Regions from separate parts of the Homo sapiens genome. Here region 1 is linked to region 2. A link means that fine-mapping ties the variant in region 2 to the expression of a gene that starts in the linked region. Tissue or cell type: regulatory T cells. Region 2 holds a variant in brackets; the other region holds the start of a gene. All regions are shown on one strand. Distances are from middle to middle.

What was found. PIP is the estimated chance that this variant, and not a neighbour inherited with it, causes the effect.
Region 1: it holds the start of RERE-AS1, and the variant in region 2 is fine-mapped to the expression of RERE-AS1 in regulatory T cells (Schmiedel 2018, PIP 0.95).

What each region holds. Positions count from the first base shown.
Region 1 is chr1:8,421,106-8,429,208 of GRCh38, forward strand. It overlaps RERE-AS1 (RERE antisense RNA 1), which reads left to right and starts at 3,540. Exons shown (of 4, transcript NR_125999.1): 1 at 3,540-3,596; 2 at 7,377-7,483. It overlaps RERE (arginine-glutamic acid dipeptide repeats), which reads right to left. Exons shown (of 23, transcript NM_001042681.2): 12 at 1,622-1,702. RefSeq lists silencers at 2,340-2,679, 2,990-3,129 and an enhancer at 6,658-6,897.
Region 2 is chr1:8,343,084-8,351,186 of GRCh38, forward strand. It overlaps SLC45A1 (solute carrier family 45 member 1), which reads left to right. Exons shown (of 9, transcript NM_001080397.3): 9 at 664-1,082. The coding sequence ends at 930. Among named protein-coding and RNA genes, the nearest start is that of SLC45A1, 29 kb to the left of the region's middle. RefSeq lists enhancers at 1-533, 6,780-7,600. The variant C/T (reference allele first, on the strand shown) is at 4,144.

The DNA of each region.
Region 1 (8,103 bases), 78 kb after region 2:
AAACTGAAAGATAAAATAATTGTCAAGATAGTTCTGTATCAAATTCTTCATGGTTTGCAACTTTTAGCAGAGCAGAGACAGAGAACTTGAGAGGCTACAATCTGAGCGATCAGGAGAAATCTACTCACTGATCTCTTTTTTACTCAGCCAAACCAAACTTCCTACACTCGGGCAAAGGCATTTTAATTTTTAATCATATCAAACTTCAAGTCACTGAAATCCCCAGAAAACTTAAAATATGTATCTCAATATTCCATATTAAATAACTCTACCCTGTTCTGGGAAGGGTAAGAAATAAGTTGATTATATAGATTGGCATCATAATACATCTTAGTTTAATGTTCATAAACAGGTTTCTCTCTCTCTGTTTTTTACCATTCTCAATATGATCCATCCTAGCATATGAGATGCGTAATACTTAAATTTAATTGTCATTGACTGATGCAAATCATCCATTTATATATACAAGACTATACTTGAAATCACAAAACCCTTCTTCCCCATGAGTTATCACTGTCCTTGAGGTACTATACAGTAAGTGTCCAGAAAAACAGCTCATTTTTAAAAAGACAGAATTAAACAAGAGGAAATCAGTAAACAACATCCAATTAAAAAATTAAGCCAAAAAACCCAAATTATCCGCATACTTTTATAGTAGATATTCTTGCATCCATCTCCCACCTCCACTCCCTAAAAAAGCAGCTCAATGTCTAGGCAGATTAAACATGGATCACTCCTCCCAAAGTCCTGAAGAGTGTTTCTGGTTAATGAGTCCTCCCTTCGCCTTCAGACAGTGGAGTGGCTGCTCCAACTCCATCCCATCTGCCCTATCCCGTGGCCTAGCCAGAGGGAAGACTCTCTCCCCATCTGCCTCTACACCACCAGGGAAGGAGATGAGGAGGGAGGCAACCACAGGGAAATGAGAATGAATCCCTTCCCCGCATTCTCTTCATATAATTTCACTCTGTATTTTCCTCAGCAAATCCTTCTACCTCACGTTTATCGGGCACATTTGTCAGCTCTGACCCCCAGCTTTGTGAAATACTAAGTAGTTTTTTGTAAAGCTCCATTTAAGCAATTTATAAGATCCCCTTGTACATCTGTCCAGTGGAAAGTGCAAACTCTCAGGGATAGAATATTAAAGAGTTAAAACTCCTCTTCAAAACAGAGCAACATTGAAAAATGGAAAAAATCCCCCAGAACTCAAAGTATAATAAGCCACAAACCTCTGGTTTGGTTGATGATTTCTGCCAATTACCAAATTCAAACTAGTGATAAAATGCTATTTCCTATTCCAGCCACTATGTTTAAAATTTGATGTTAACTCTCCAACAATCCTTCCCCCACAACTAACCCTCTGTTCCCAAAGACCTTTCTGTTCTCAGAGTTACAACAGAAGTCTATGTTCTCCAGGCGGATAAGCATAATCTGTCACTTTACTATCTAAAAATTATGAACTCAAATTAAAAGTCAAGGGAGTAAAACGGAGAGAATTCTGGAGGCCAGCCCGAGTCTGAGCACAGCGCAGGGTTAAAGGAAACCATTTCATAAGATCAAATGTGGAGAGGCAGCAGGAGCAAAGAGGAAAAAATCAAGTTACATAAAGTCCAATTGTACTCACTGTTTCCTTATTGGGAAGCAGCTCCTTTCTAATTCTGAAGAAGTTCTTCCCGTACTGCCTGAGTCCCTTAACGAAGCGTTTCTGTGATAAAAAGAAACAAATGGGATGTAAAAACCAAAAACAAAACAGGATGTCAGCAAAGCAAAGATATCTACAATCAGCAGAATAACAACCACAAAAAAAGTCTCGGCTAGGGAATACTGCCGAGGCTCGGAGAGTATGTCAGCAGCTCAGCTGGGACCCACTGGCCAGGGCAGGCCCCAGCTACCTTCATCAGAACCCCAATCCCACCCACCACGCAGGGCAGCGCGTTTAAGAGAAGGACGTCCTGCGTCTGAGGCTAAGAAGCAATCTGTCCCCCTCTTCCACCAGGCACACATTCTGGTGCACGAAGGTATAAATATGCTCCATGTTTTAATAAAACACAACTGCTTTCCCACCTGAGAACCAAGCTTCCCAGAAGTGTCGAGCAGAAAGGGGAAACAGAACCAAACCCGGTGACTCTTCTCCAGAAGGGAACCCTAGGGGGTTAAAAGGCCGCTTTCCTTAATCCAAAGAATTTGCCAGGAGGCACCGGAAGGCACCAGTATCACAGAAGCCCACCGGGAACACGAAAGCCAGCGGGCCTGCCCCACCGTCCGTCATTAAAAGCCACTCCGAGACACCAGAGAATAACCAGCACCCCTTCCGCCCTCCCGACGCCACTCGCCGCCCCCATCCATTTTCGCAGCAGACTCGTCCCTAACCCCAGCCCGGAGACTTTCACTTTGTCCCATGCCTCCCGAGCACCCCTCCCCGCCCCGGTGGGGGCAGCTCCTGGCTCCGAGCCCCCACCTCGGGGCTCCCAGCCTGGTCCCGGGCGGCCGACCCCAGCAGCCACAGGTAAGCGCCCGGGGTCCGGGGCGGCAAGAGGCCGTCGCCTGTCACTGGGCTCCGGCTCCACAAAGCGCAGGGCGGAGGCGGCCGCGGGTGGCTCGGCGTGTGACCGCGGCGGGGCCGCGCGGCGCGGGGCCCGGGGGGCGCGGGGCTGGGGCCGCCGCTGACGGGGGAGGAGGCAGGAGCGCGGCGCGCAGAGCCCGGCGCGGCCGCGGGCGGCTGCAAAAGGCGGCCTGGATTGCCGCCGCCCTCCTGTCCGCCAGCCGGGGCCCCGCGCCCCGGCCCCGGCCCCGCCCCCGGCCCGACCCCCACCCCGAGGCCGGAGCCTCCAGGGCACCCGGCGCTGGAATCTGTGTCCTCCTTCCGGACAGGAGAACATCAAGGCGGTAAAGCACAGAAACTTCCTCCCTACCGCAGCAAGCGTGGGGAGAGGGCGCCCACAGGGCTGGGGCCCTTCCCAGGCTGCTGGGTCTCCAGCCCACGTTCCGGATGGACGAAGTCGGCTGCGCCCCGGCCGCACGCCCTCCGCCCCAACCCCGCCTCAGCTGCGAAACGGGGGGCTGGCCCCGACGCCCCCCGCGGTCCCTTCCGGCCCGCGATTGTGGGCGGCCTCTCCCTGGCGGCCCAGGCATTAGCCTGCACTTCCCCGGCCGCCGCTTCACAACTAAATCACCGCGGAAGCTTCCCAGCCAATAAATCACCTGCCCACCGGGCAGAGGGTCCCTCCCACTCCCTGTGTTTGAGACCCGCCAGGCGGATTCAGTGAAGGGCCAGACTTAGCCTTTTAAGACCAGTCTGCAACCTCCTACTCCAGTAGTGGAGGCTTTGCGTTTTTGAATTTCACCCTTGCTGAGATATGACTCATCATTGTCAATTTTCAATATAATTCATACAGTTCGAAGGGAAAATCTCTCAAGGCACAAGAAAGCAGCAAGCTCTCCTCTAGTGTGAGGAGTGACCTTTGTTACTTGACAAAAGTATCGTTTATATGATCAACAGGCATCCTACGCTGTGTGCACACAGCATATCACCGGGAGAGACGGCACGGAAAGATGGCCCTGCCCTCAAGGAGCTGCAGTCTGCCCAGGAAGGCAGACAGGTAAACAAACCAGTCCTAGGGCCTGCAAGAAAAGCAGCAGAGGAACAAAGGGTGGTGGGTGAAGCTAGGAAGAGGAAGCAACTTACTCTGCTTGCTGATGTCTTAGAGGAAGTGACAAGGAAGAGTGTGAGCCTGCCAGGTGGGCTCCAGCAGGGCTTCCAGCAGAAGTCAGCCAGGAAAAGGCACAGGGAACATTCTGGGAACTGCAAGGAGGACAGGGTGTGCAGAATGGAGTGCCAGCAGATAAGACGAAAGAGGCAGGCAAGGATCCGGTTGCAGAGAGCCCTTCAGGCCGCACGGAAGAGTTCCTAATTGTAGGCTGGCAGAAAGGCTGAAGCTGGAGCTTTCCATGAAAAGACTGGATGAGGACTGTGCCAGTGGCAGTGTGGCCTAAGTGTAGATTAGGGACAGACCAGTTAAAGAGGCTGCTGACACAGTTCAGGTATGAGATGAGGACCTCAACTACTGGCACACTCCACCTCAGTAATCAGAATTCCTGCCGCTTAATCCATTCTTCAAGTATTCAGGTATTTACTGAGCACCTAGCTGAGAGGGGTCTAGGAAGATAATAAAGGTTGCCATGGACCTTTACTGAACTGTGATTCATTTTTGCACGTAAGATAAGTATGTGTGAAGTCATTACAGAACATTCTGAGATGTCATCTGGCCAAGCATAAAGAAGTGAGGTGCAGCTCATCAGTGCAGCAAGGGACCCAAGAAGGCTAGACTGCAGTGGTCTGTAGTAGTTCAGAATGCCTTCGCCAAGGCAGTGACATCAGCGAGATCACAAGGGGTGGGCAACTATTGCAGGGGTGGGAGGTGGCTTGGTGACCGGGCCCTCCGTGAAGGTCAGAGGTGGAGAATGGGAGGTGGGTTACAGGGGACAGTCTACACAGACTTGGGGCGGGCAATCTGGAGTGAGCCAGGCTGTGGAACGCCAGGACCATGCAATCGGAACGTGGGCTTGATACCAAGTGACATCTAACAGGTCCAGTAAAAGAGGCCTACACAATAAAGGCAGCATGTGAGAAAGGCTGACTCTGGAACATCAGGGTAAGGTGGCAGAGTTGGACAAACAAATTCAGATCCTGTTTCTTCCATTTATTGTGATGCAATCCTTTGAACATCATCCATTCAACCAATAGTTACTAAGTACCTACTATATGCCAGGAGCCTCATATATATTAATTCGAAATCTTTACAACCTAAGAAGAAGTACAATTATTATCCCCATTTTACAGACAAGGAAGCTGAGGCACAGATAGGTAACTAGATCAACTCCTCAGAGACAAAGCCAGAATTCAAACTTAAGCCCCCTCAAATCCTCAGAGCCACACTCTGTAAAATGCAGGCAGGCGTCTACAGTGGTAACTATTTTCTGTTACCATTTTCTATGAGTCTGTACTTTCCTCTTCTCGGGTCCAATGTCAAATCATAAAGTCCTCAGTATTCTTCCTAAGAAGTGTCTTTCAGCCGGGCGCGGTGGCTCATGCCTGTAATCCTAGCACTTTGGGAGGCTGAGGCGGGCAGACCACAAGGCCAGGAGATCGAGACCATCCTGGCTAACACAGTGAAACCCCGTCTCTACTAAAAATACAAAAAATTAGCTGGGCATGGTGGTGGGCGCCTGTAGTCCCAGCTACTGGGGAGGCTGAGGCAGGAGAATGGCGTCAACCCGGGAGGCGCAGCTTGCAGTGAGCCGAAATTGCGCCACTGCACTCCAGCCTGGGCGACAGAGACTCTGTCTCAAAAAAAAAAAAAAAAAAAGTGTCTTTCAACGCCCTCCTTTCCTGCTCATGCTAGTGGCAGTCCCAGGCCAGACCTTTATCTCTCTTTCCTAATAACTAGGCTATTAACCATCTCCCCCATCCAGCCATTTAAAAGCCTCTGCCAAGGAATTTTTCCCAACTATAGATTTCATCCTGAGTCCCACTTTATCTGGCCCTTAGCCCCTACCTAAGAACAGCATGGTGGTCTCTGCAGGACAGTGTTTACACTCCTTAGCCCTGAATTCAAGGCCCTCCAGGATCCTGGCCCTGCCCACCTTTCCAGCCAGATGTCCAGTAATGCCAACTGGCCCACACTGGGGGACCTCTGTCTCAACTCCAGAATCTGGGTAAGGCATCTCCACGTTCACCTCAAAATCTCTCCTACTCCCAAATGAAACCAGATGTCCAGTTACTCTCTCATTAGTTTATTTATTTGTATAAGGCCTGCTTACCCAAAAAGTCCATAAACTCTTAAAATAATTACATCTTACACCTAGTGCCTCCATATAACACTAGGCAGTTGATGCTCACCACATTTTTTGTCTCCTTTAAAAATTATTTATTTATTAACGATGAGGTCTCACTATATTGCCCAGGCTGGTCTCAAACTCCTGGCCTCAAGCAATCCTCCCGCTTTGACCTCCCAAAGTGTTGAGATTACAGGTGTGAGTCACCGCACCCGGACAAGTGAAACCAACCATGAGATGCTGAGGGCCTGGGCTAGGGTGGTCACAGTGGAAATGGACTGTTGAAAGCCAGAAGGTCCATTTTGAACTCTCCTAACAGAGCTGACCTCTTGCTCCATGATGCCAAACTCTCCTAGTTTTGCTCATACCACTTGGCCTAATTCTCTACTCAACCTCTAAATGCTGGAGTCTCCCCAAAGCTTTGTCCTAGGGCTTTCTGCTATATATATCCTCTCCCCATATGATCTCCACTGTTCCCTTGGCTCTAAATATCTTTCGAGATTGTCACTGGTATTTCTAAGACTAAATCTATGGTCCAAGTCCACTGGGAACACTCAACTTGAACGTTTCACAGGTATCTCAAACTAATTACTTCCAGAAATAGGAATTTGACATCTGGTGGTGAACACAGACCTACCACAGCTGTCAATGTATGTCAATATAATGCTATCAAGAGCAAAAGCACCCTTGGCCCCACTTTAAAAAAAAAAAAAAAAAAAAAAGGAAGTAAAAGCTTCATGTGGCCTGTACTGTTACTTCTCTATGGAAAGCCACAAGGCCTCAAAACCAGCAAAACATCTGCTTCTCAGAGACCAGCCTTTAGCTTGTGGTTTACCAGAAATGTAGAGTAGCCCTGAAAATCGAAACAAAGACGACCACTCACAGTAGTCAATGATTGGAAGGGGTCACACGTGAAAGAGACTTCTGTTGCGGCTGTCTCCTTTCCCTCTATAAATTCATCGCTCTTCAAATGAAGACCCCGAAGTTTTTAAGACTTTAACAATTAACACTATTGACTTATAAATCAACAGGCCCTATAAGCCTCTAAATGCAAGTTCATGGAGACAGTCTGTTTCTTAAGAGTCTTCTAGTTGTTGAGCTGAAATTCGGCATTTCCAGTGCTGAAATTCAAGGTCTCATGAATTATTTCTGTGTCCATTAGTTTTTCTATCACTCCCAGTGTATAGATATTAGAATAGCAGGATGCCAAGGGTAAAGGAGGAAGGAAATATAGAAGGCAAGTCACTGACTTGGCCACTGCTGCCAGCGCTGGGCAGCTCTGCTGTTTATGCTCCCCAGCTCATAGCCTGCCCACTCTCAGACGCACGAACTGAGCGTCTTGAGATGTTGGCACTTGTTTCTCTGGTGTGTTCATGCCCAACCAACCCAACTAGGTGCTGCTCCTTGGAAACATAAAACAAGTCCTTTTCTGTTTGTGTACCCCCATAGCCAGGTGAGATCCAAATATAAATAAATATTTATGGCAAGGAGATTGTTGCTTTGTGTTACAACTTACGTTTATGATTTTGTGCTCTAATTTTTAGATAAACTGCTATAGTTTTCCACTATTGAGCTGAATTTCGTATCACCATCAAAAGTTACCTACCTACAAGTCCCTAGTAGAGAAAATTTAACTTCTGGCTTTAAAAAAGTAAGTTACCTGAACCCAGCATTACTAGCCTTGGGTTTTAATAGAACCTGGAAAGCTCTGTTTTGCATTTTCGCTACAGTGGAAAGAACGCAAGGTTCAGACTTGGAAGCCATGTGATCTAGTCTGCTCCTATGTTCCAAAAAGGAAATTCTGACATGGCTGTTTAGACCTAGCCACTTTAGAAACAGCTATATTGGAATAAAAATAACAATAACATAAAAATAAAAATAACCACGTCAAAATGCATTAAATTAATGTGTTCAAAAGTTCCTCATGCTATTGCTTGAGCCCACCCCCTGTCATAGTCCCCCAAGCCTTGTGCCTCAGCCTCACTGGTCTGCCTAGATACTGGTCCTCACCTCTCCACCTTTGGGATGGCACGTGGACCTGGTGCAAGTAGCATCACCATTAACCTACTGATGAGTACAAACGGCATTGATTTTTACATGCGTCATGGTATGAGAAAGGCAGGGAAACACCACCCTAGAACAATAAAAATGGTGAACACTGAGCGCTATAACGTGCCAGCCACTGTCTTAAAGGCTCTAATGCACTAGCTCATTTAATCATCACAACAACCTTATGAGGCAGAGGCTACTGCTATTCCCATCTTTTAGGTG
Region 2 (8,103 bases):
TGGGGGGAAGCCGCAGGGGAGGCCCAGGCTCCCAGGTCACAGCAATGCCCACTCACGCAGCACCTTGCAGGCCGGCTGGTGCTGGGGGAGCCCAGTGAGGGAAAGCCATGCCACCGCTCCCCACCGTCACTCTGCACAGACCACACTCTCAGCCACTGTCCCCCAGCATGGCATGCAGGGGAGGGAGAGTGAGTGACGTGCCCAAGCTGGAGGCCACGAGGACCTTGGAGCCTCGGACAGAGGACCAGCGGCTGTCATGTGCAGAGGACTTTGGGGGTGTAGGGCAGGTCCCATCCTGGATGAAGGTGAAGGAGGGGATGGCAGGAGTGGAGCGGTCGCCTGGCTGGGCAGATTGGTTTTCTTTGGGTGAGAGGATGGGGAAGAGCTCAAGTGCTGAGCGGGGAAAGTGTCTCCCGCCACCTCGGCCCGTGGGAGCTCAGCCCTCTGCCCCATTAGTCATGGATTCTTTTCATTGTCGTCATCTCTCCGAACACAAATATTGTTAAACTCTTGGCTGAACTCCCTGTGCATGTTGGCGCTGAAAAATGTGAGGCCGCTGTGTGTGGGCCGCTCGGGCCTCCTGGGCTCGCAGGACACACCGAGCTCGGTCACCCCGTGCTGGCCGCGGCGTGTCTCGCTGACACGTTTCTTCCTCTGGGTCAGTTTGCAGGGTCCAGTGCGGACGGCACCCGGCGGGGCATGGGCGTGGACATCTCTCTGCTGAGCTGCCAGTACTTCCTGGCTCAGATTCTGGTCTCCCTGGTCCTGGGGCCCCTGACCTCGGCCGTGGGCAGTGCCAACGGGGTGATGTACTTCTCCAGCCTCGTGTCCTTCCTGGGCTGCCTGTACTCCTCCCTGTTTGTCATTTATGAAATTCCTCCCAGCGACGCTGCAGACGAGGAGCACCGGCCCCTCCTGCTGAACGTCTGACATCGCGGAGCCTCGACTCCGGACACGCGCCTGCACCTGGGGGTCTGGAGCAGGCCGACCAGTGAGGACCAAAGGGCCTTGTTGGACAGGGGGACTGGCTGCCTACTGGAATGTAAATATGTGATAAAATAATAAATGACAGCGGCAAAGCCTATGGTTTCTAGGCATTGCTCTCTGGTGGCTGAGAGGTCCCCATGGGATTGAGTTACCCTCCTGAGGACTCGGGCAGGGGAGGTTTGTAAGAATCTTTTTTTGAAAGTAAAGGTGTAATTCAATGGTTCTCAACCAGGGGCAATTTTGCCACCCCACCCCCACCCCCAGGAAGACATCTGGCAAAGTCTGGAGATAGCTTTGGTTGTCACAACTCGGGGATGCTGTAAACCTCCCACGGCACACAGGACCGCCCCAACAGCAAGGAGCTAGCAAGACCCAGCTGTCAATTGTGCTGAGGTAGAGTGAGCCTGGTCTAACTGGACCATACATTCTGTACATTGCATCCCAGGGTAGAGTCACAGTATACAGGTCTTTTGGATCAGAAGGCCTCATATTCATTCACTTGTCCATTCATCCATTTATTCTCTCATCCATTCATTCATCTACCCATCCGCATATCCACCCATCCACATAACCATCCATCCACTCATCCAAATATCCTCCCATCCAAATATCCACTCATCTATATATCCATCCATCTACATACCCACCCATTCATCCGTCCACATAACCATCCGTCCACTCATCCAAATATCCACCCATCTGAATATCTACTCATCTATATATCCATCCATCCACATATCCACCCATCCACCCATCTAAATATCCACTTCTCCATATATCCATCCATCCATCCATCCATCCATCCATCCATCCATCCATCCACATCCAAATATCCACTTCTCCATATATCCATCCATCCACATATCCACCCATCCGTCCATCCACATAACCATCCATCCACTCATCCAAATATTTACCCATCTGAATATCCACTCATCCACAAAACCATCCATCCACACATCCACCCATCTACCCATCCACATAACCATCCATCTACTCATCCAAATATCCACCTATCCGAATATCCACTCATCCATATATCCATCCATCCACATGTCCACCCATCTACCCATCCAAATATCCATTTCTCCATCCATCCATCCTTCCACCCATCCTCTTATCCACTCATCCACCCTCCAGATATCCAGCGAGTGCCTGGGTGTGGCAGACAGTGGTTGGCCTGGGAATCCAGCTGTAAGTGTCCACTCTGCCCTGCTGGAACTGATGTGAGAGGAAGGGAGACACATGGCTCACTGAGGTTCCGTGCAGCGCAAGCGCAGGGAAGGAGGACAGGGCGACAGCAGCGTGTCTGGGTGGCCTCAGTAGTGAGGTGCCGTTTGAGCAGTGTCCTGATGAAGCCAGGGAGTGATCTCTGAAGTGAGCACTTGCTTGACAGGCTCGAGGGAGCATAGGCACCAAGATGCTCAGATTGTAAAATGCCCCAAAAGTTGAAATCTCAAAGAGTTTGGAGCTGATGTGGCTGGCCAGCGCCCATCCTGCCTTTTGACTCCACAGGCAGGGACTAGGGGCTGGAGGGCGAGGTTCGGGTCATTCTTCCCCCTCCATCCGCCAAGGGTTCATTCCACAGATGGACACCATGTGCCTGCTGCGTGCAGGCGTCGCTGGGCCTGGGTCTGCCCGGGCTGTGCCCACTGCCTCCCAGTGCCCCTTTGTGGATCTGGCAAAGCTCTCGTGAGTGTGGCAGTCCCTCGCCATCTGGCCTCTGACCATCTTCGTCACCTGACGCTGGAAGCTCACCAAGGCCCCTTCTCAGAGGCCTGGGAGGGCTCCTCCACGCATGGTGATTAATGGCCATGAGGGGTCACGGCCGGGTCCCTGTTGTCGCCAAGCTGGGCCTGGTCTGGGATTGTGCAGCCCCCAGTTCCCTCACTGCATGGGCCCTGTGTTCTGGGGACATATAAGACATCCCTGACCACAAATCCACAACAAACAACAGGGGTTCTGGGGCCTGTTGCCAGCCTTGGGGAGTCTGGCGTTCATGACAGTGTCTTATCATCTTGCTGTGACCACTTAGGGCCAGTCAGAAAGGCTACCTCCCCACCTGGGCCACAGCCTCCCTCCCAACCACGGCCTCCCCACCTTGGTTATGATTTTCCCACCTGAGCCCCGGCCTCCCCCATGGGCCATAGCCTTCCTCAGTGTCACTGCCTGCTGCCTCCTGGAGCCCCACCACTCCTCTCTGCGCCCCTGCTGGACTCCTGGCCTCCTGTCTACCCTCACATCCATCTTCCACCCTGAAGCTGGGGGGCTGTAAACACGGGCCTGAGCCCATCCCCTCTTCTAGTCTTCCATGACACCTACCCTGGCTCCCCAGACCCTAAGGAATCAGGTAGAAATTCCTTCCACCAAACAGAGCCCAGCCCATCTTCCCGAGCCAGCCACCCGCCACGTTGCCAGCCCCCTGTACTACAGCCACAGAACCTTTGTGGGCCACAATCGGTTCCTGTGTTTAGGATCTTCCTGCAGGCCAAGTCCACCTCTTCTCTGCCCATCAATATCTGATTCATCCATGTAGACCTGTCTGAAATGCCACTTCCTCCGTGCAGTCCACCCTGCTTGGAGCCAGTGATTCTTTCCCTGTGCTTTCATGTGATGCTGCTTTACCCTTCATGGTCATGAGCTCAGTGAAGCGGGTCTCACGGTCCCTGATACACATGTAGCTGAAGCACAGAGAGGTTTAGTGGCTTTTCAAAGTCACACCGCTCCTTTGAGCCTCTGTAGACTCAGGCCCTGTTAGTCCCATGCTTTTCCTGGAACTGCAGACTTACCCTCCCCACATTTATGTTGTTTGGAAGAGCTTCAGACTTCCTAGAAAATGTGGTGTTGGGTGGCTGTCCTCTGGTCTGGGCTGTCTTTGCCCAGAACTGGTCAAAATGAAGAATAAGGGGCTTCCCGCTTACTCTTGGCTTGTCAAATCTTAGGCCCTCTTCCTAGAACTTTCTAACAAAACACAGATTGCTTCTACACGTGGGAATCGTCCCTGTCAGCCTCTCTTTTCTGAGAACCTGCCCTGCCTCCCGAACTGTGGGAGTACTGCCCTCTGGCCGGGTCCGAAAAGCTGCCCTTGACTTCCAGGTCTATTCCTAGCAGATGGCAGTGGGAGCAGCCACCAGCTCCAAACCACGAGGCCTAGGA[C/T]TCACTGAGAGCCACATTCGTTTGACTTTCACATCTCAGAGAGGATTTCTCTCTACTTAAAAATCAAGCTGTGGGCCGGGCGCAGTGGCTCACGCCTGTAATCCCAGCACTTTGGGAGGCCGAGGCGGGTGGATCACGAGGCCAGGAGATTGAGACCATCCTGGCTAACACGGTGAAACCCTGTCTCTACTAAAAATACAAAAAATTAGCTGGGCATGGTGGTGGGCGCCTGTAGTCCCAGCTACTTGGGAGGCTGAGGCAGGAGAATCGCTTGAACCTGGGCGGCAGAGGTTGCAGTGGGCTGAGATTGCACCACTGCACTCCAGCCTGGGTGACAGAGCGAGACTCTGTCTCAAAAAAAAAAAAAAAAAAAGAATCAAGCTGTGATGATGAGGGTAGTCACCGCTGCTTGCTGTTTGTGAAGTCCTCACTACACACGAGGCCACGTGTGAATGAATCTTAATCCATTCTCCGACCTTGCTGGGAAAGAGGTATCATTCCCCCATTTGACAGATCTGGATCCTGAGGCAAGCACACCCAGTACCTGGCCCACGTCACAACAGGGTGGAGTTTGAGCCCGGGGAGTCTGAGTCCAGCCTCATGCCGCTGAGTGCCTTAGGAGCGCTGTGAGCCGGCCAAGCCCCTGAGGGCGGGCAGCTTCCTGCCCGTCTGTCTCCTGAACACTGTGCTGCTGCAGGGAGGCCTTCTCGCTCCCCAGGGCTCGCTCCCCAGGGAGCTCAGCTTGGAGGGAGCTTCTCATCCTATTCAGAGGCGAGGGGACAGCGGGAGAAGGCCTCTTGCTTTATCGATCAGCGCTCTGTGAGACTCATGCTTCTCAGGCCACTCAAAACAAAAACCACATCACCAAGATCTGAAGCCACTCCTGACTTTCCTGTCAGCAAACTTGGAAAGTGGCTCCCATTCCTTGATGCCACTCAGAAACGAAACACACCTAACAGCCATCGAGCACTGCCCACAGCACTTAGCATGGAAACTGAACGTCATCAAAGGAATTGCCCTAGAGGTCATCGCCTCCCTGGGTTTTGTGTTTCTTCCTCCCTAGGCTGTTGGGCTAACCCTGGACCATTCCCTGGGGAACCGGGACAGGGTAAGGTGGCATTCCCTGGAGAACCGGGAACCGGGACCCGGTAAGGTGGCATTCCTACACTCACCAGGCTGGGCTACAGGTTTCTGGGGGAACAGGGATGATTTCCCTGGAATATGCAAGAACTGACAATTGCCTGGCCCCCCCGCAGTCGGGAGGTCCTGGCCCTCCCTGCACCTGCTCAGAGTGTGTCTGCAGAATCCACTCGGGTGCGTGGGGCGTGACGTATCATCCTCAGCGGGGAGCGGGTGGAGGGCATCCGTAGAGGGAAGGAGCAGGTGTCTGGAACTGGGGGTGGGTACTTTTGTGGCACACAAGGACCCCCAGCAGCTGCTCAGGGGGCTTGTCGGGGAGTGGGGGCGCGGTTAGTTATGGGAGTCATGATTCTTGGAAGTCATCCGCTGCTGATGCCATCCTGGGATTCTCTTCCACACAAGGAACATTGAGTTCCTACCGGGTACCTCCCAAGCCTTGGGGGATGCAGCGGAGAACAGAAGAAACCTCCTGTTCTCTAGACAAGGCCTTTGCCCTCATTCTCACAGCCGTGCCCGCCCTGCCTGCCCACAGCCATCAGCCTCACCTGCCCACACTCAGCCCCCTCTTCCCAGCCATCTCCACAACCCGCTCTGCTGAGGCCTGTCCAGTTGCCTGATCTCTGACCCGCCTGTCCGGCCGCCTGCCTCGAGGAAACGTCGGATCTCTTACACAATGCTCGCTGTCAAACCCTCCAGCCTTCCCCACCATCGCCGGGGGCCTTGACTTGCCCCTACACCAGAGCTGCAGGTCTTGTGGCAGCCGCGGGCCCAGGGCAAGCACCTGGGCCTTGTAACGACTGCCACCTGGTGGCCAGGATGGGGATGGACTCTGTTCGACGGCTGCCCAGCAGCAGGGTCCAAGGGGATTGGGGGGTGGGGGGGACTGGGTGGTCACATGCCCAGAAAACAGTGGGATAGGCAAGAAATGGCCTCAGGAATCCTCTCTGGGACAACTAAAAGGTGCTCTAAAAGCCTGTTTTTAATTTGCTCCAATGGATACTCAAACCCTAGGGGTTCATCAGAAGCTGATCCCCCAAGCCCCATTCCCCACTTCTACGATGGTGTCAACCAGGGTTGGAGTCAGAGGGACTGCAGGGCCCACACGGCAGGCACAGTCAAGAGAATGTGAAGGGAGGGTCTCCAGGTGCCCAGCAGAGGCGTCCCTGGGAAGCCTTCCGAAGTCAACCCAAAAGGTCCTTCTATCTGGTCCTTCACACCCACTTTCCAATAGCACATCTGGACTGGCAGCAAGGAACCTTGCCCTGCAGGGCCCGTCCGTCCGTCCATCCGTCCGTCCGTCCATCCATCCATCCATCCATCCATCCATCCAGCAGGGTCCATCCACCCATCCATCCATCCCTCCAATATCTGCAGAGCAAGTGCCTTCCACAAACTTGGTTCATTAAGAAGGGGCCCGGGTGCCTGTGCATACACAGAACTGGGCTGTGGGAGATACAGGGGGACTTCTGCAGCCTGGGTCCCTGAGGTGTCAAAAGGGAACAATGACCACTCTTGACAAAGACAGCCACTAGAGAAGCCACCTTGAGTTGGAGAAGCAGAGAACCAGGTCCCAGAACTTGAGTTGCCAAGGATTCCAGGGCAGCTAGGAACCCAGTGGGGATTCAGGTAAAGGACCTCAGATACCGAGACTGTCAAAGGCCGACAATGCCGCCTCCGAGAGGACCGGGTGAGGCATCTGCAGCTGGAGCTCATCAGGGGCTGAGCAGGAGGCTGTTCCTGGCCCCCTGGGGATCCACGATGGATGCCAGCTCCAGCCAGGCCCCGCCTTCTAACGGGAGGTCCGGGAACCTTATGAACCAGAAAGGGCTTGCTTTATCCTGCAGCCCGTATCAGTCCAACCGGATGGCCAAATGTGCGGCTGCATCCCTTGGCTGGCTCATCTGGCAGATCCTCCTTAGGAGGAGGTAGGGAGGCCAAGGACCCCGCTGTTCCTCGGTCTCCATTGGGCAGCAGGAAGGGCCCCAGGGGTCCAGTGCAGGACAGACTTTTCCACTGGTTTTGGGGCCTGGCAGCTTCATCCCCAGTATCTGGGTAGCTGGTTCTGATTTCAAAGCTCTGAGTTCAGATATGTACCCAAGCCTTCTGGGCTGGTCAGGTGAGGCTGATGGTGGTCACTGAAGTCTGTGCTGGTGCCCAGTCACACTGCCCTGGGTCTCACCATGTGGTCAGGCTGGGGCTAGTGAGGGCTCTTAGCTCAGATGACGGCTCCCCACATCTCAGCTTCCACACAGAAGGGCTCTGGCCCTGACCCCCCCCCCCCCCGCCCCCCGCCACCACTCATCAGCTGATCACATCCACAATTGTATAGCTCACCAGTGCTGATTTTTGAGGGCCTGGAAGCTTGCAATCTCGTGTGTGTGTGGGAGGCCACCGCTGATCTCTCCACGGTGCATCCTTGCCCTTCAGATGCGTGATCTTGACTTACCCAGGTGAGGCTTAAGTGAGGTCTCTCCCTCCCTAGACTTACCATGGACAATTATCAACAATGCAGCCACACACCCAGCTGCACACCTACACTGTGCTGAGGCCCTGGGACTTACACCATGCCCTGCAAAGTGCCATCTTCCTAGCCCACCTGCAGTGGAACCAGCGGGGCTGCTGAGCCACCATGCTCAAGCTGAGGATGCGTTTCCAGGAACAAAGGGGCAGAGGGCACGTGGGACGTCGTTGGGGCAGCAAGAGGCGAGGGCCTGGCTTTGGGGTGCTGCTGGAGGACAGCACCATTTCCCTCCGCCCCGTCCACCCAGCAGATGTCTGGTTAGCATTCCCGGCCCTCTTCCTCACATGGGTGCGTGGCAG